Linked DNA regions of Homo sapiens: region 1 is linked to region 2. A link means that fine-mapping ties the variant in region 2 to the expression of a gene that starts in the linked region. Tissue or cell type: putamen. Region 2 holds a variant in brackets; the other region holds the start of a gene. All regions are shown on one strand. Distances are between the middles of the regions.

The links. PIP is the estimated chance that this variant, and not a neighbour inherited with it, causes the effect. A credible set is the group of variants that fine-mapping cannot tell apart.
Region 1: ITPRIP-AS1 starts here. The variant in region 2 is the best candidate, but not a certain one, in a credible set for the expression of ITPRIP-AS1 in putamen (GTEx, PIP 0.73).

The regions. Positions count from the first base shown.
Region 1 is chr10:104,319,840-104,327,942 of GRCh38, reverse strand. ITPRIP-AS1 (ITPRIP antisense RNA 1) reads right to left here and starts at 4,579. Exons shown (of 3, transcript NR_120622.1): 1 at 4,373-4,579; 2 at 3,920-4,005; 3 at 1,198-1,604. All of the region lies in intron 1 of ITPRIP (inositol 1,4,5-trisphosphate receptor interacting protein), which reads left to right. RefSeq lists enhancers at 1-328, 329-974, 2,764-3,492, 3,493-4,223.
Region 2 is chr10:104,052,726-104,060,828 of GRCh38, reverse strand. It overlaps COL17A1 (collagen type XVII alpha 1 chain), which reads left to right. Exons shown (of 56, transcript NM_000494.4): 14 at 549-710; 15 at 1,111-1,191; 16 at 2,639-2,683; 17 at 3,657-3,854; 18 at 4,826-5,047; 19 at 5,428-5,457; 20 at 5,822-5,848; 21 at 6,711-6,737; 22 at 6,847-6,909; 23 at 7,694-7,798. Among named protein-coding and RNA genes, the nearest start is that of MIR936, 8.6 kb to the right of the region's middle. RefSeq lists enhancers at 5,649-6,848, 7,161-7,747. The variant G/A (reference allele first, on the strand shown) is at 3,544.

The DNA of each region.
Region 1 (8,103 bases), 270 kb before region 2:
GGAAGGTGATGGGGCAAGACAAAGACAGAGGCAGCTGTCGGGCACACCAGGGCGACACGGGGCCTGGAGCCAGGCTGTTGTGTGACCTTGAGCACATTGCCCCACCTCTCAGCACCTTGGGCTCCTGCCAGGGACATGAGGCTGATGGCCCCCTCCCCCGGGGTTGCTGCGTGGGTTAAATGCAATAATTCAAGGATAGAGACACATGGGACCAGCCTCAGTTGGGTGCCTGCTGTGTGCCGGTGCATCTACAGAGCCACCTGACCTACATGAGGTACCTGGTGCACTCAGTGGGGCCTAATTCATATGTCCCTCTCCCTCCCCTGTTCTCCTATCCCTTGGAAGAAAGAGGGATTTGTCTTGGGATCCTGGAAGGCTCCTTGGAGGTGGAGTCTGAGATGGGCTTGCTGTGAGGTCAGTTGGGTAGGGTTTTGGCCAGCAGAGGGGTGAAGCATGGATGTTTCCAGGAATGGTGGGGAGGTGCAGGAGCTATCTGGGGGACAGGAGATGATCTGAAGTGGCCGGGCCAGGCAGAGAGGGAACCAAGAGGTCCTCTGAGGCTGGTTGGGCCAGGCCTTGAACATTCTTAAAGCGCTGACTTGTGTCCCATGGAAACAAGACTCCCTTGAAATGGGGAGGGGAGACGTGCAGGGTTGGGGAGCTAACTGGGGGTTTGGAGTGTTAGGGAGAGCTCAGATGAGCTGACCCCAAAGGCCTACGCTGGCCAGCACACGAGAGAGATTCCATCTCACGTGGAATCCCCAGGCTTCGGTGCAGAGCAAAGGCCAGGTCAGAGGTGGCTGGGGAGACTGGAGATACCCCAACAAGAGGAAGGTCAGCGAGGGGAGCTGGCTGGGAGAGAGGAGGGTGCATTGCGCTTTGAGACTGCAGTAGTCTCCTGGGGTGGCCATAACAAGTTGCCACACACCAGGAGGGCTTAAGACAGTGGGCATTTATTTTCACAGTTCTGGAGACCAGGATCAAGGTATCAGGGCCACACTCCCTCCAGATACTCTAGAGGAGAGTCCCTCTTTGCCTCTTCCAGCTCCTGTTGTCTCAGATGATGCTCAGCTGTGGCAGCGTCACTCCCATCCTGGCCTCCGTCTCCCCTCACCTCTCCTCTGTCTCTCTCTTTTGTGTCACTTCATAAGGATACTTGTCATTGGATTTAAGGCCCACCCGGGTAATCCAGGATGATCTCATCTCAAGTTCTTTAATTTAATCACATCTGCAAAGACCCTTTTAGGTCCCATTCATAGGGGCTGGGGATTAGCGCGAGGACGTATATTTTGAGGGCTGCCATTCAACCCACACAGTTGAATGGATCTGAGATGCCCTGGAGGGAACGCGTGGGAGAAAAGGAGGTGTGGGCCAGAGCTCAGGGGTTGCAGGGGAGCCCCCTCCTTGTCTCTGCTACTGTTTTACTCCTTGTAGTCTCTTCTCACTGTCCTCTCCACAACCCAGCCATAGAGATCAGGCGTTTGTCTGTCTGTCCCAAGATGCTGTGATTTCTATGATGTCCTGCTGGAGGAGGCAGGCAGAGTGGCTGGACGGAGGGACACTCTGTCCTTCCTGGGAGAGGATGGCTTCCCTGCCTTCTCCATCTGCTCGCCGAGGGACGTGCATCAGCCGGCGGAGGAGCGGGAACAGGAAGGATGTGGCTCACCCACCCAGAGCCAGCAGAGTCCAGCCCTCTGTCCTTCCTGTGCCTCTGCTGGCTGGCAGACCACCCCCATGACCCAGTCCTGAGAACAGAGTTGGCATTCTGGTGACTTCTTGAAACCGCTCCCTCTCCCGAGAGTGGGCCTTGAGAGCACTTAATGCTTTGGACGGGTGTGAGCAGCACCTCCTGTGAGTCCGGCCAGAGTGTCCACATGCAGACAACAGAGGCTCGCTGGAGCAAAAAAAGGCAGCTTCTGCCCCGCGTGTACTTCCCCACCGGCTCGGTGGTAGGGCCACCTCAGGTGGGCACTGGGGTGGAGCTCTCCCCTCTCTGCTGTCTGTCCTGCTGCCCCACCTCACCAGAGTCCAGACTGACCCCTGGGTGCTTCTGAGCCCAGCATCCCACTCAGTCAGTCTGGGCTCTCCCCTGGGTTAGGGAGGGACAGTTGGGGCTCCTGGGGCCCACAGGCCTTACTCTAATACCAAGCGCTTCTTAGCGCAGCACCATTAGGCCTTTTTGCTTAGGCGAGCCTCTGCTGTCCGCGTGTGCACACGCTGGCTGGACTCGGGGTGCCCGGTTCCACCCACTCGAAGCATTAAGTGTCCTCAAGGCCCATTCTAGGAAGAGGGAGGGACTTAAAAAAAGTCACCAGGATGCCAACCCAACAAAGCCTCTTCTCTCTTTTCTTCTAGTCCTTGCAGAGGCCATGGGGAAGGAAGAAAATCTGCTCTGGCATTTACACTAAGTTCCTACAAGGGCTGGCACAGAGTCAGCCCTCATAAGTGCTGGTTAGGATTATTCCGAATGTGGCTGCTGGGGCCAACGAGGAGACACGGGAGTAATCAGGCCTAGGTTTGGGGAGAAAGGTGGAGCCAGTATTTCAGGGAGTCATGGACTCAGAGGAAATAGTGGGTTTGCTGAGTAGTTGCTGATGGGGTAGGAGTAAGGAGAGTCCTGGGTTAGGGGTTACCTTGAGGAACGCTTCATGGGGGGTTGCAGACCAGAGCCCACAGGCTCTGGGTGGCCACTAACATATTTTATTTCATTTTCTTTTCTTTTCAAGACGAGGTCTCACTGTATCACCCAAGTTGGAGTGCAGTGGCGCCATTTCAGCTCACTGTGACCTCCGCCTCCCGGGCTCAAGCAATCCTCACACCTAAGCCTCCTGAGTAGCTGGGACCACAGGCATGTGCCACCACGCCCAGCTAGTTTTTTTATATTTTTGGTAGAGACGGGGCTTCGCCATGTTGCCAAGGCTGGTCTCGAACTCCTGAGCTCAGGCGATCCATCTGCCTCAGCCTTCCAAAGTGCTGGGAATTATAGGTGTGAGCCACTGCACCCAGTGTTGCTCACATGGTTTTTAAGGAATTTTTGAAATAGCAGCTAACATTTAAAAATGGGGGGATTTTGACAAAGTCCAGATTAGTGGCTTTTCTTTGGGAAAAAAAAGATCTTGTCATTCTGGGTGCACAGAATGTGTGGCGTGGGGACTCGCCCCTTCAGACGAAGCATGTGCCATCCAGTCGACCAGTGTCCCCTCCTCTCAGCTGTCCACTGCAGCCCCGCTCATTTTCCCTGCGGGCTGGCCCTCCCAGACACTTGATTTTACAACCCGGGTCCTCGAGACAGGTGTCTGGAGAGAGGAAGGGAAGGAGCCCAGTGGCCACAGGGTGGCAGGTCTGGGGGAGGTGGGTTGGCCAACATGATGGTCCTGCCCAGTGGGAGAGGGGGCAGATGACTGGACGGGGTCAGGGCTGCAAGGACGCCGAGAAGAAAAGGAAGTGCGGCAAGCCCAGAGCCGCAAACGCACCCTTTCCACCTACTTTCTCAATGATCTTTTTGTTGGTCCTCTTCCTTCCTCTTTCCTCACTTCCTTTCTTTGCCTGTCCCTCCCTCCCCTTTCAGGGCCCAGCCTCCGGCCCCAGTCTGCTCACCTGCCCCTCTATATTCCCTCTCCTGTCCCCATTTGGAGTGCAAGTGAAGAGGGACCCAGCCAGAGATGCCCTGGTGGGAGCAGCTCTGAGACCTTGCACTTGCTGGAGCAAAGCCCTTCTCCTGTCCCACTGTCCTGGAAGGATGGGAGCCAATCAGGCTGAGCAGTGACACATTCAGAGCCATTGTTACTGAGCCATTTGTGCTGTGTCCTCTGTCCTGAGTTAGGCAACAAGGAGGGAGTTGGTGGAGACATGTCACTCCCCAGCTCTATCTGCCACCAGCCACCTCCTCCCAATGTGCAATAAGTCAACTCCTACTTACATGTTGGGAGCCTGCAGTGTGCCCAGCCCCGTGCGTGGTACCCTGGGGGCTGCAGGAGAACATTCAGCTTCTTGACCATGCTGGAACTGTAGGTAGGAAGGCAGGGACCGGTGGGTGACACAGTAAAGAGCAGGAAGGTGGCCTGACCTGCAGGAGTTCCAGGAAGGGTGAGATAGGCCAGATCCAGGGGCAGGTGCCTGGAGAAGGGCCCTGAGCTGGCCTTGTGCTATGGGAAGCTGGTGTCACTGCAGCATGGGGCGTGAGCCCTGCTAGAGAGAAGCATGGAATTGAGGGTGAGACAAGTAGGCTGGGCCATGGGAGGAGGGTTTCACGATGGCTCAGACCGCCCGCCCATGAGTTCCAAACTCTAAAACCAAGACTCAGGGTAGAACTCATGCTCCTTTCTCAAAGTCCTGTTTTTCTAAGGCCTGGGAAGCTCGGGAGACAGCCAACCTGGATAATTTTGGTGGTCACCACTGACAATGATGCTGCAGAGGTACCCCCAGGCAGGGGAAGAGGCAGGACCCACTCAGTTTTCCATCAGTCCCTTGAGGGGTTGGAAGGAGACCAGAGGGAGGGGCAGACTCAGCCTAGGTGCTGCTCACATTCAGCCATGCACTGCAGACTCAGGAATCCTAGAGGCCACCCAGTGACCTTCCCAGAACATCAGTCTTCTTCATCTGTAAGAGAGTTTTAATGCAACTACCTAAATGAGGTTGTGACAATTAAATGACAAAACATATGCAGAGTACTTAGCATCCTGCCTAGTATGGGGTACCTGCTTCCTAAATGGCTGGTCATGTAAACATCTTCACCTTTCACCACCCTTCCCCTGTTCTGTGCTGGAATCACTGCCAGGTGCTCCCTGGGAGGGTCCACGGGATGATACCCAGCCTGCCTCTTCTACTCCACCCACCCTCCAGGCCTAGCATGTCTTCTCTTGAGGCCTCGGTTTCTACCTCTGTAAAATAAAGAAACCTAAATTCAACTCTATATTCTGACTTTCTTAAATATTTGGCTTGATTTCCCCCCAACAACTGTGTACCTCATCAGCTGGGGCTGAGAAACTGCAGCACAAGGCCAGGATACAGAAGGAGTTCAGCCCAAACTCATGGCAGTTTGGGCCTCCCTTGGCTCCTTCTTTCTTGGAGGACCCAGAACCTAGTGAAAGGGACCCAAGTCACCCCCAAGGCCTCGGCTAAAAGTGCCCTCCCCTGCCCTCAGCCAGTCCTTTATTCCATTTCGTAAAGGAAACCTATCAGCTACTCCTTTTGGCTCTGAACGTGACGCCAGGGCCAGGCCTTCTTTTGCTGTTGTAATTAGCAGAGCTAATTGCATCTGTCAGGCTGTGTGCTGGGCAAGCCCTTGGCAATTTCCAGGATGTGGGCTGCTGTGACACTGCAGGAGCCCCACCCTCCTACCCAGAGGACGCCTGGTTTGGGAAGGGATGGTTCTCAGACATAAGCGGGCATTAGAATGACCTAGAGGGCTTGTTGAGACACAGATACTGGGCCCAGCCCTGGCATTTCTGATCAGCGGGTTTCAGGTTGCCTGTGAAAATTTGCATTTGTAACAAGTTGCCAGGTGGCACTGTTGCTGCTAAGCACGTTGAGAACCACTGTCCCAGAGGGAATACCAGGTGGCCAAGAAATGGGTCCTGGGCACCCCTGCTGCTTAAGGCTGTGGTCAGTCAACCCTCAGTGGGAGTAGATGGGCAGTGGGGCAAAAGCGGTGTGATGAACAGGTTGTGGGGCCGGACACATGCTCCTACTGTTCCTGGTTGGTTGTAGTAATTCTGTCTGGAAGGAGAGGAGGAGGTGAAGGTGGAGCCAAGGAGTTGCACACTGACATCTCCCCAACAGGTGAGGGCAGGGAGAGCTCCAGACAGGGAGAGGCCTTCAGAGAACAGGAAGGAAGCTCCCTCCCTCCTCTGCATTTTGCAGCCTGTAGCTCACGTGCCTTTTATGCCCCACATCTCATTCTGTCTGGGGACTCCATACGTAGTGGCTGTCTACCTTCCCGCGTGGATTGTAATGCTTTTGCTACCAGGGGTCAGGCCATACTCATCACTGCAGGCCCTGAAGCATCCATCATGTTCCTCGAGCTCAGTATGTGCTCCGTACATGTAGCACAGTGGAAAAACTTGAGCTTTGCTGGCAAAGACAGACAGAATGAGCTTGAATCTCAGCCCAGCTATGGCTTTTCTAGTCCTGTGGCTAGAAAATGACTTAGCCTCTTGGACTTTGGTTAACCCATCTGCAAAACAGGGATGGCACCCACCTCTTAGAAAGTTACAGTGGTCAAAAAAAAAAAAAAAAAAGAAAAGAAAAGAAACTTACAGTGGTTAGTGTGTGCAGTGCCCAGCACATCCTAGTGAGGGCTCGAGAAATGGGAGAGCTATGGGTGTTAGGCAATGCTTTGTGGTGTTTATTGGATTAAGCTATGGTGGGGAGTGCTGCAGGCTCTGGGGGACCCAGGAGTGAGGGACCCCAGTGAAGGAAGGAAGCCTTGGATTTCTCCCAGGGTCTTGGCTTCCGGCCAGCCTCACAGTAAAGGTCTGAATAAACCACTGGTCCCAGCCAGCCACCTGCAGCCCTCTGTCCGGGCCACCCAGAAGCTTCCATCTTCCCTCAGCCCCTGTTGCCCCGTGACTCCAGCGTTGCCAGGCTAAGTTTAGCTGTGAACTGCATGGGCCGCCCCTCTCTGTGGACAAGGGCAGAGGTGGAGAGGAATTCAGCAGGCTTCCTGGCAAGCAGACAGAAAAAAGCCCGCCAAGTGACCCAGGTTTATTCTCAAAGCCAAACCCACCAGCTGATGTCTCAGACCACAGGTGCGGGAGAGCCTGGTAGAGGTGAGAACTTTGGGCCAAGGCAGAGGTGGACATCCTTGGAATTGGGAGTAGGGGACTCTTTGGGGAGGCATGTGCTGGTATGTGCAAGAACATGCACACATATACACATATCCATGGTTTGTGAGAGGCTCCTCACTACCCGTCCTGTCTCAGAATGTCAGAATGCCCTGTTTCCTTCCCTTTTGTGGACAAGTCAACTCTATACAATATTTGAAGGGATTTATTCTGAACCCATCTGAATGACCAAGGCCTGAGGCACAGTCCCAAGAGATCCTGAAAATATGTGCCCCAGACAGTTGGGTTACAGCTTGATGTTACACATTTTAGGGGGACAGAAGTTACAGGCAGGCCAGGTGCTCACACCTGTAATCCCAGCACTTGTGATCCCAGGCAGATCACTTGAGGTCAGGAGTTCGAGACCAGCCTGGCCAACATGGTGAAAACCTGTCTCTACTAGAAATATAAAAATTAGCCGGGCATGGTGGGGCATGCCTGTAGTCCCAGCTACTCAGGAGGCTGAGGCAGGAGAATTGCTTGAACCTGGGAGGCAGAGGTTGCAGTAAGCTGAGATCCCTCCACTGCACTCTAGCCCAGGCGACAGAGTGAGACTTAGTCTCAAAAAAAAAAAAAAAAAAAATTACAGGCAGACCTCCATCAATGCATGTGTAAGGAATATGTTAGTTTGGTGTGGAAAGATGGGACAACTTGAAGTGAGGGCAAGGAGTGGCTTCCTGGTCATAGGTGGATTCAAAGATTTTCTGACTGGCAATTGGTTGAACGAGTTAAGTTATTATCTAAAGACCTGGAATCAGTAGAAAGGAGTGTCTAGGATAAGGGGTATGGAGACCATGGTTCTTACTATGTAGCTGAAGTCCCAGGAAGCGAGTTTCAGAGACAGGAGATGGTAAGTGTCTGTCAAACCTAAAAAGGTGCCAGACCCTTAGTTCATCTCTCCTGGATCAGGAAGAGGCCTGGAAAGGGAAGGAAATTCTGTACAGAATGTAGATCAGACTCTTAGTTCATCTCTCCTGGATCAGGAGAGACCTGGAAAGGGAAGGAGATTCTGTACAGAATGTAGATTTTCCTGACAATAGGCAGCTTTGCAGGGCCATTTCAAAATATGTCAAAGAAATATATTTTGGGGTAAAATACTTTGATTTCTTTCAGGGCCTGCTATCTCATATGATGCTATATTGGGTTGAAATTCGGTATCTTATTGCTACAGAGTCTGTTTTGTCACTCCTAGGATCTCTGTTTTAACGTTAATGCTGTTCAGTTGTGCCTGAATTCCAGAGGGAGGAGGGTATAATGGGGTTTGTCGGCTCCTCCTTCC
Region 2 (8,103 bases):
AGCTGATGTCAGTGGTGGAGGCAGACGACAAACACATAAAGTATGCAAGATAATTACAGAAAAGGATACAGATTATAAGGAAAGCAATAAGTAATGTGGTAGAGATAGGAGTGTGTGTATGAGGGTGAAGTGCTTTAGATGGGGTAGTCAGCTAAAGCCTCCTCAAGAAGGCAACTCTTAAGACCTGGAGGATAAAAATGAACCCAAGTTAGTTAAGGAAGGACTTACCTGACTGGGGGACTTTTACCCATTCAATAAAGATCCTATAATCTCCAGGAGGGGAGGCAGCCCCCATAAACCAGCCATCCAGAGCTTCTGACATTGACCCAAACTCTTGGTGGCCAGGCCCAGCCAGGCATAGAGGGTGTCCTTGGTCCCCAAGATGCTTCATAGTAACCACTGTCAGCAAGAACAAGAGACCCTCATACACACCTGCTAATTTACCTCCCTCCTCCTTCTCTTTCTTCTCCTTCCTCTTCTTGTCTTTTCTCCCCTCTCCCTTCTCCTGGCACATGTCCTTCCTTCTTACCCATTTTCTTTCTCCCCAGCCTGCACCACAAGTGTGCAGAGCGATGACCTTTTGCACAAGGACTGCAAGTTCCTGATCCTAGAGAAAGACAACACACCTGCCAAGAAGGAGATGGAGCTGCTCATCATGACCAAGGACAGCGGGAAGGTCTTTACAGCCTCCCCTGCCAGCATCGCTGCAAGTGCGTCAGATCCTGTGTGGCTTGGGTTTCAGAAGAAAGCCAAATAGTGTAGGAGACCAAATGTCCTAGCAAGGTGGTTTGGGACCCTATGAGTCATGAAACCATAGCCATCCCATTCTAATGAAAAGCACCTGTCTGAATAGTATGTTCCAGGGTCTGCCTTGAATGCAGATGAGCTGAGAAAATTCAGGCAAAGAGCTCTCAGAGAGGCATTTGGGCGACAGCAAGTCTAACCGCAAACACAGATCAGGGGAGATGAACCCCAGGAAAGAGGGGCTCTTCTTACCAGTCTAACCTAGACCTTCCCAAGCAGGGTAGTGGGCAAGGGCGGGGGGAACACAGGACAGAGTTGAGAGGTTGAGAAGAGAATATGCCAGGTTATAATGGGTTCTGTACATAGCTTCTTTTTCAGAAGACACCCTAAAAAAAGAAAAGCAAGCTGCCTACAATGCTGACTCAGGCCTAAAAGCCGAAGCTAATGGTAAGAACAAATATGATTGTTGTCCACCTTGACTTCAGCCAGGCCACATTTCATTTCATTGTCTTCGGAGACCTTGCTACTCAAAGTGTGGTCCACGGGCCAGCAGCATCAGCCACACCTGGGAGTGTGTTATAAAAGCAGGATCCCAGCCCTAGCTCAGATCTGCTGAGTCAGAAGCTGCAGTTCAACAAGCTTCCTAGGTGATTTGCATTTGCATTACTGAAGCAAAAGCCTGCCTCTGCCATGTCTACGAAGGCATTTGTTTTCTCATTTTACTTTTTCTCCATAATCTTCAGAACTAATAGAAAAATGCTTTGCAAAGCAGTTGTTAGCTTTATTTTTTTTTCTTCCCAAATATCTGCGTTCTTTGTCTGATAACCACATTTCTTGACGATGCCCTATAGGAATCTCTCCAAATCACTGATTTCAGGGAGGTCAGTAAAGGAAGGAAAATGTTAAGTCATAGAACATTTTCAAATGAATGCCAATCAAATCAGTTATCACTTTAACAAGGTGAGAGATTGGAACCTGACTGTAAGTCTTTAAAGTTAGCAGTTCCTGACATTTTAGGGGTAGGTCTAGGGCTGTGGAGTCAAAAGATCCTTTTCAGAATCTGATGAAAGGTATGAACAAATTGCCGAGTAAATTCTACACATGCCCACAAACACTCAACTTTCTTTTTCTTTTTTTGTTTTTTTTTTTTTGAGACGGAGTCTTGCTCTGTTGCCCAGGCTGGAGTGCAGTGGCATGGTCTCAGCTCACTGCAACTTCTGCCTCCCGGGTTCAAATGATTCTCCTGCCTCAGCCTCCCAAGTAGCTGGGACTACAGTCATGTGCCACCACATCCAGCTAATTTTTTTGTATTTTTAGTACAGACGGGGTTTCACCATGTTGGCCAGGCTGGTCTCGAACTCCTGACCTCGTGATCTGCCCGCCTCGGCCTCCCAAAGTCCTGGGATTACAGGCGTGAGTCACCGTGCCTGGCCTAAACACTCAACTTTCAAATAGCATCACGGACTCAGGAACAATCCTCCTCCAAGCTCATCCTTCTCATTCCCAATTCCTTCCACCCCAGGTCAGGAACTTGTGTTCAGAGTCCCTTAACCAAGAAATCAGAGTCATTTCTCACAACCACACTTATTGTTTGAATGCAAGCGGCACCCATAACTTGGTGTTCCAAAAATGTTTTGAGGTGTTAAGGTTTAAGGTCATAAGAGAATTAAAACATAGTGCTTTCTTCCACCATTAATTGTTTGCCAAGCCATGTCTTCATGGATGTAATTATCGCAAATATCAGATTAGTGAGGACTGAGATGCTGGATGTTCCTGCACGTCGTTGAAAGCAAGTTTATTAAGAAAGTAAAGGAATAAAAAAATGGCTACTCCATAGGCAGAGCAGCTAGCTCCTCCAGTTTAAAAGCTCAGGTCAATCTGTTTGTCCTTTCAGGAGACCTGAAGACTGTGTCCACAAAGGGCAAGACCACCACTGCAGGTGGGTGAGAACCGCGAACCCTGCAGTGACAGGATCCAGTGGGGCTGCTTATGGCTAATGGACCAGATGATGGTCCCTCGCCTGGAAGCAGTGCAGTGCACAGAAGCCACCAGACTCTAAAGAGTTTCCCTAAAGGCTCAGAAGGGAGCAGGGTGGGGGTCAGGGGAGTGGCAGGCTGTGGGTCAGAGGTGGCCGCAGAAGGAGCTTAGCTCAGGGGATGAAGCTAACAGGCCCCCCGCCCCCAGCTGCCCCTAATTAACACTTGTTAGTTAGGTTGTCTCCTAACACAACAGGGTGACTGTGTCTTTACACAGCAGCTCAAGAAGAGACTAAGCCATGCACGCCTCCAGCCCCTTAGCCTTTCCTCATTTCCTTCCACCGCCGTGTGATAGAAGCAGGTCAAGTCCTACCACCCCATTTTAGGGAACTAAAAACACTTTTCATTACAAAAAACATTGTTTTAATTCACTAGGCACCCCTGAAGAGCTGAGTATAATTCTAGGCACTGTAAGGATTAAAGAAAGCACTGTGTGAACTGAGGCATGGAGATGGGAACGCTCTAGGTTTGGGCCCAGTCAGATGCAGACCAATGCTATATTCAAAATAAAGATGTTTAAGCCTCGTGCTGTGCTGCTAACTCCTCTACTATTTTACATTCCTTGTCCTATTTCATTCAACAACCTTCCCAAGAAGGAGGCAATCTTTTAACCCCATGTTATAAAAACGGAAACAAAGGTGAAGTGACCTTCTCAGGTTCACACAGCTGGAGCCAGGATTGCCAGACTTCTGGTCAGCACCAGTCAGGCCCTGTGCTCAGTCCAGGAGCCAGCCCTGTCCTGGGTGGAACAGCACAGGAACTT[G/A]AAAGCCCCCAGTCGTAGTCACTCAGGCCAGAAAGTCACCAAAAGTCAGAGAATCTGGAGGGAAAAGGCAGGAGCTGCCTGCATTTGCTTCATTTTCCCTGTCTCTTTCACAGATATCCACAGCTACGGCAGCAGTGGTGGTGGTGGCAGTGGAGGAGGTGGCGGTGTTGGTGGCGCTGGCGGCGGCCCTTGGGGACCAGCGCCAGCCTGGTGCCCCTGCGGCTCCTGCTGCAGCTGGTGGAAGTGGCTGCTGGGCCTGCTGCTCACCTGGCTGCTACTCCTGGGGCTGCTCTTCGGCCTCATTGCTCTGGGTACGTGGCAAAGGCAGCAGGGCAGCCTGTGTGGTAGGAGGCAGGCCAGCCCCACTGCCTGTCAGAAGGGCAGGAATCTGTGAATGGGCCCACGTGTTAGGGGGCGAGGGGACCTGAATGCATTGGTGCAGACCCTTGTTACCGCAGATGAGTAAACTGAGGCCCCAGGAGGTACCTGGCCAAGGACATGCTGCCACTTAGTGGTGGAGCTGAATTTGGATGCAGCGCCTGATGCTCAGCCCCACCCTTGCTACACCTGTAGGCCCTGGTCTAAGCACCTGGCTGCCCTTGGTAACAAGGTCAGGACTTTCTTAGCCTTTTTGACTTTTGCTGTTTCCAAGCAGCCATATCTATTTCTTTTCTTTCTTTTCTTTTTCTTTCTTTTTTTTTTTTGAGACGGCGTCTCGTTCTGTCGCCCAGGCTGGAGTGCAGTGGTGCAATCTCGGCTCACTGCAACCTCCGCCTCCTGAGTTCAAGCGATTCTCCTGCCTCAGCCTCCTGAGTAGCTGGGACTACAGGCGCATGTCACCACACCTGGCTAATTTTTTGTATTTTTAGTAGAGATGGGGTTTCACTGTGTTAGCCAGGATGGTCTCGATTTCCTGACCCCGTGATCTGCCCCCCTTGGCCTCCCAAAGTGCTGGGATTACAGGCTTGAGCCACCGCGCCTGGCCAGCCATATCTATTTCTATCAGCTCTCACACCACCTCACAGGGAGAGTGAGGACAAGCTTTGTCACCCAGCTCAGATGAGAAGACTGACTCCCAGGCCAGGTTTCTTTAAGGCTCTGCTGTGATGCTGAGCAGCTAATCCTGCTGGTGGCCACGGCAGATTATCTCTGCATGAGTATTCTAGCATGAAGAAGCCACCACAGGCCCCAATCCCTTGTGTCAGGCTCTCCACTAGGAGCGAGTGTATGGAAGGCGAAGGACCGGGCCCTCAGTGACGCAGTGTGTGTCTGTTTGTTGCAGCGGAGGAGGTGAGGAAGCTGAAGGCGCGTGTGGATGAGCTGGAGAGGATCAGGAGGAGCATACTGCCCTATGGGGACAGCATGGATAGAATAGAAAAGGACCGCCTCCAGGGCATGGCACCCGCGGCGGGAGCAGACCTGGACAAAATTGGGCTGCACAGTGACAGCCAGGAGGAGCTCTGGATGTTCGTGAGGAAGAAGCTAATGATGGAACAGGAAAATGGTGAGAGCATCGCCGGGCACAGGGCCAGCTCCCCTGAGTCCCTTTCTTCTTTGCATCTATGTGGTATGTGTGCATGTGCTGTGAGCACCATCATCCGGCCCACTCTCGGCCTCTCTCCTCCCCTGATCCTCTCAATAGCGCTGAGAGGTAGGTGGGACCAAGACTGTGGTCCCACTTTACTCCTGGAAAAACTGAGTTCTGGAAAGAATAATTGCTCAAGATCACTGGACTAGCCAAATTTAGAATCTGATCTCTAGTCTTTGCCTCAGTTTCTTCTTCCCATACCATGATCCCCTTATTGTGTGTGTGTGTGTGTGTGTGTGTGTGTGTGTGTGTGACAGGAGATGTGAAGCTGACTCAGGATTTGCTTTTTCTTGCAGGAAATCTCCGAGGAAGCCCTGGCCCTAAAGGTATTGCCATGGATTGAACCTTGTCTCTGATTCATTTCCTGCAGTTGGAAGTGAGTTTTCTGGGTAGATTAGAAGCCTTTTTCTTTGTTCTAAATGGAAGGATGAAGAGCTGAATGATCTTATGGTATCTGTTGGGAGGTATCTGTTGGTTTTAGAGTCAGAATATCTTAGATAAGGCAGCATCTAAGAGAAGCCCAGCAATGAGCCCAAATGACATAGACTCTGGGACTGGGAGGGACTCGCCGCATGTCGCCTCACCTTGAAATACAGTTTACATCTTGTCAAATGGTTTTAAAATACAAGGCAGAGTATGGCCTTTGGGTTCTTGCCCCATCTCACAGTTTTCATATCTTTCTGGTTTCAGGTGACATGGGAAGTCCAGGCCCTAAAGGTAATTATAACATGGGCATTTTTACCTTAAATATTAGCAAGTGTTAATTGTTTCAAACAATCAGCAAGTGTCAGAAAACCCACCTTGCACTCCAAGAAGTAATTTGACAACAGATGGGACAGGTGTGTGAGGAGGAGAGGTTTCCAATCCCAGGGACCTTTGGCTGGACACAGAGCAGTTTTCCTTGGTCCAGCTGACCGGGATTGGCGAGCTTCCCTGTGCACAGGAATCTCCAAAAGAGTTTGGGCCACATTTCCCGAGCCTTTGACTCAGGGGGTATGCATGTGGGCAGGAGTCTTTATCTTAGTCATCCACGGTGATTCTGCAGCCAGAAGAATACTGAGCACCACGTTCAAGATGACAGGATCCCACCTCTCTCCAGCTCCCTCCTCACTCCCTAGGCAACCCCAGGGCAGGAAGTCAGCTCCTCCACTTTGGGGCCCTCGAGTCTCTTCTTTCCCTTCAGATCCTTGCCACCCACACCCTCGCATATACCTGGGTCATTGTCCCAGCCCTCCTTCCCCAAGTCTCCAGCCCGCACACCCCTCCTGACCATGTTAGTGGTGGGGACTGATACTGCCAGAGTACCTGAACCTGCAGTTGTCAGATAAAATACAGGACTCCCAGTTAACTTTGAAGATAAACAACAAATAATTTTTCACTATAACTTGTCCCAAATATTTCATGGGACATACTTATAACTAAAACTATGTGTTGTTTATCTGCAATTCAAATGTAACTGGACATCTGCATTTTTATTTCCTAAGTTTGGCAACCCTACCTGAATCCCACTAGTGACTGCTTTGGGAATTGGGCACAGTCTTCTGGCTGACCACTCTCTCTTTTGCCTTTGTTCCTGCAGGAGATCGAGGGTTCCCTGGGACTCCAGGTATGTACTCTCTGATGACCTCCAGGCCTGCCAGTGTTGCAGCTGCTCAATCCTAGCTGATGGCTTCTGGGAGGAAAACAGGGGCTGAGATATCCTTGTGTGTTCACAGGTATCCCTGGGCCCTTGGGCCACCCAGGTCCACAAGGACCAAAGGGTCAAAAAGGCAGCGTGGGTAAGAAACACATTTTTCTTTATTCATTTATTCCTCATTCTTTCATTCATTTAATAAACATTCATTAAGTGCCTGCTGTATGTGAGGCCTTGTTTTAGGCTCTGGAGAGACACCAGTGAACCAAACAGAGAAACCCTGCTGTTGTGGAGCTGAGATTTGGGTTTGGGAGAAAGACAGTAACTGTGAGAAATAGTGAAGTCTATAGCAGTTTACGGGTGATGCACGACATGGGAAAGGAGAGCCTGGAGGGATTTTGGGAATGAGAGCTGGGGAGAGTAATTTTACACAGGGAAGCCAGGGAAGGCCTCCCTGAGAGGCCACCATTTGAGCAAAGATTCGAAGGGCAAGAAGGAGCCAAGCAGGAGAGATCTAGGGAAAACATTCCAGGCAGAGGGAGCAGCCAAGGCCAAGGCTCAGGCCCCAGGGCAATTTTTAAGGAGCATCAGGAAGGGGAAGACCTCTGAGCTGGAAAGTCCAAAGGGATGGGCCGAGAGGAGGCAGGCTGTGTGGGGCCTCAGAGGCCAGTGTAAGGACTTTGGCTTTGACTCTGGGTGAGTTGAGAAGCCATGTGCAGGTTTGGGGCAGAGGTAGAACATGATCTACTCACATTTTCAAAGGGTCACTCTGGCTTCCAGGTTGAGCCAAGGCTATGGGGTCCAGGAGAGAAGCAAGCAGGGAGGCCAGGGAAGGGCTCCAGGCAAGCGTCTGCCGTGGGAGGCTGCCTGTGGAGCCGTTAGCTGGGGTACGGGATCCTGACTTGGAGGCTGGCCATCCCTGTCTTTAGGAGATCCTGGCATGGAAGGCCCCATGGGCCAGAGAGGGCGAGAAGGCCCCATGGGACCTCGTGGTGAGGCAGGGCCTCCTGGATCTGGAGAGAAAGGGGAAAGAGGTAAGAGGCAATTCCTTCACCGGCAGAGTTAGCTATGCCTGTGCTTCCTTCTCTCTGTCAACACCCGTCCCTCCTTCACTCTGTCTCTGTTTCTCCCCCCTTCCTTCATTTACTGAGCACCCACCCTGAGTCAGGGTCTGTGCTAGGCCCTGCAGAGACGCTGGGCATAGGCTGGGCTACAGGGCCAGGCCTAGGGCTGAGAACCCATCTGACATCCCTGGAATCCACCGGGAAAGTGGTCACAGGAGCAGTGGCCTTCCTGGAGTTGGGTGGTGAGGGTGAGGAGTCAGGCCGAGGTGGGGCTC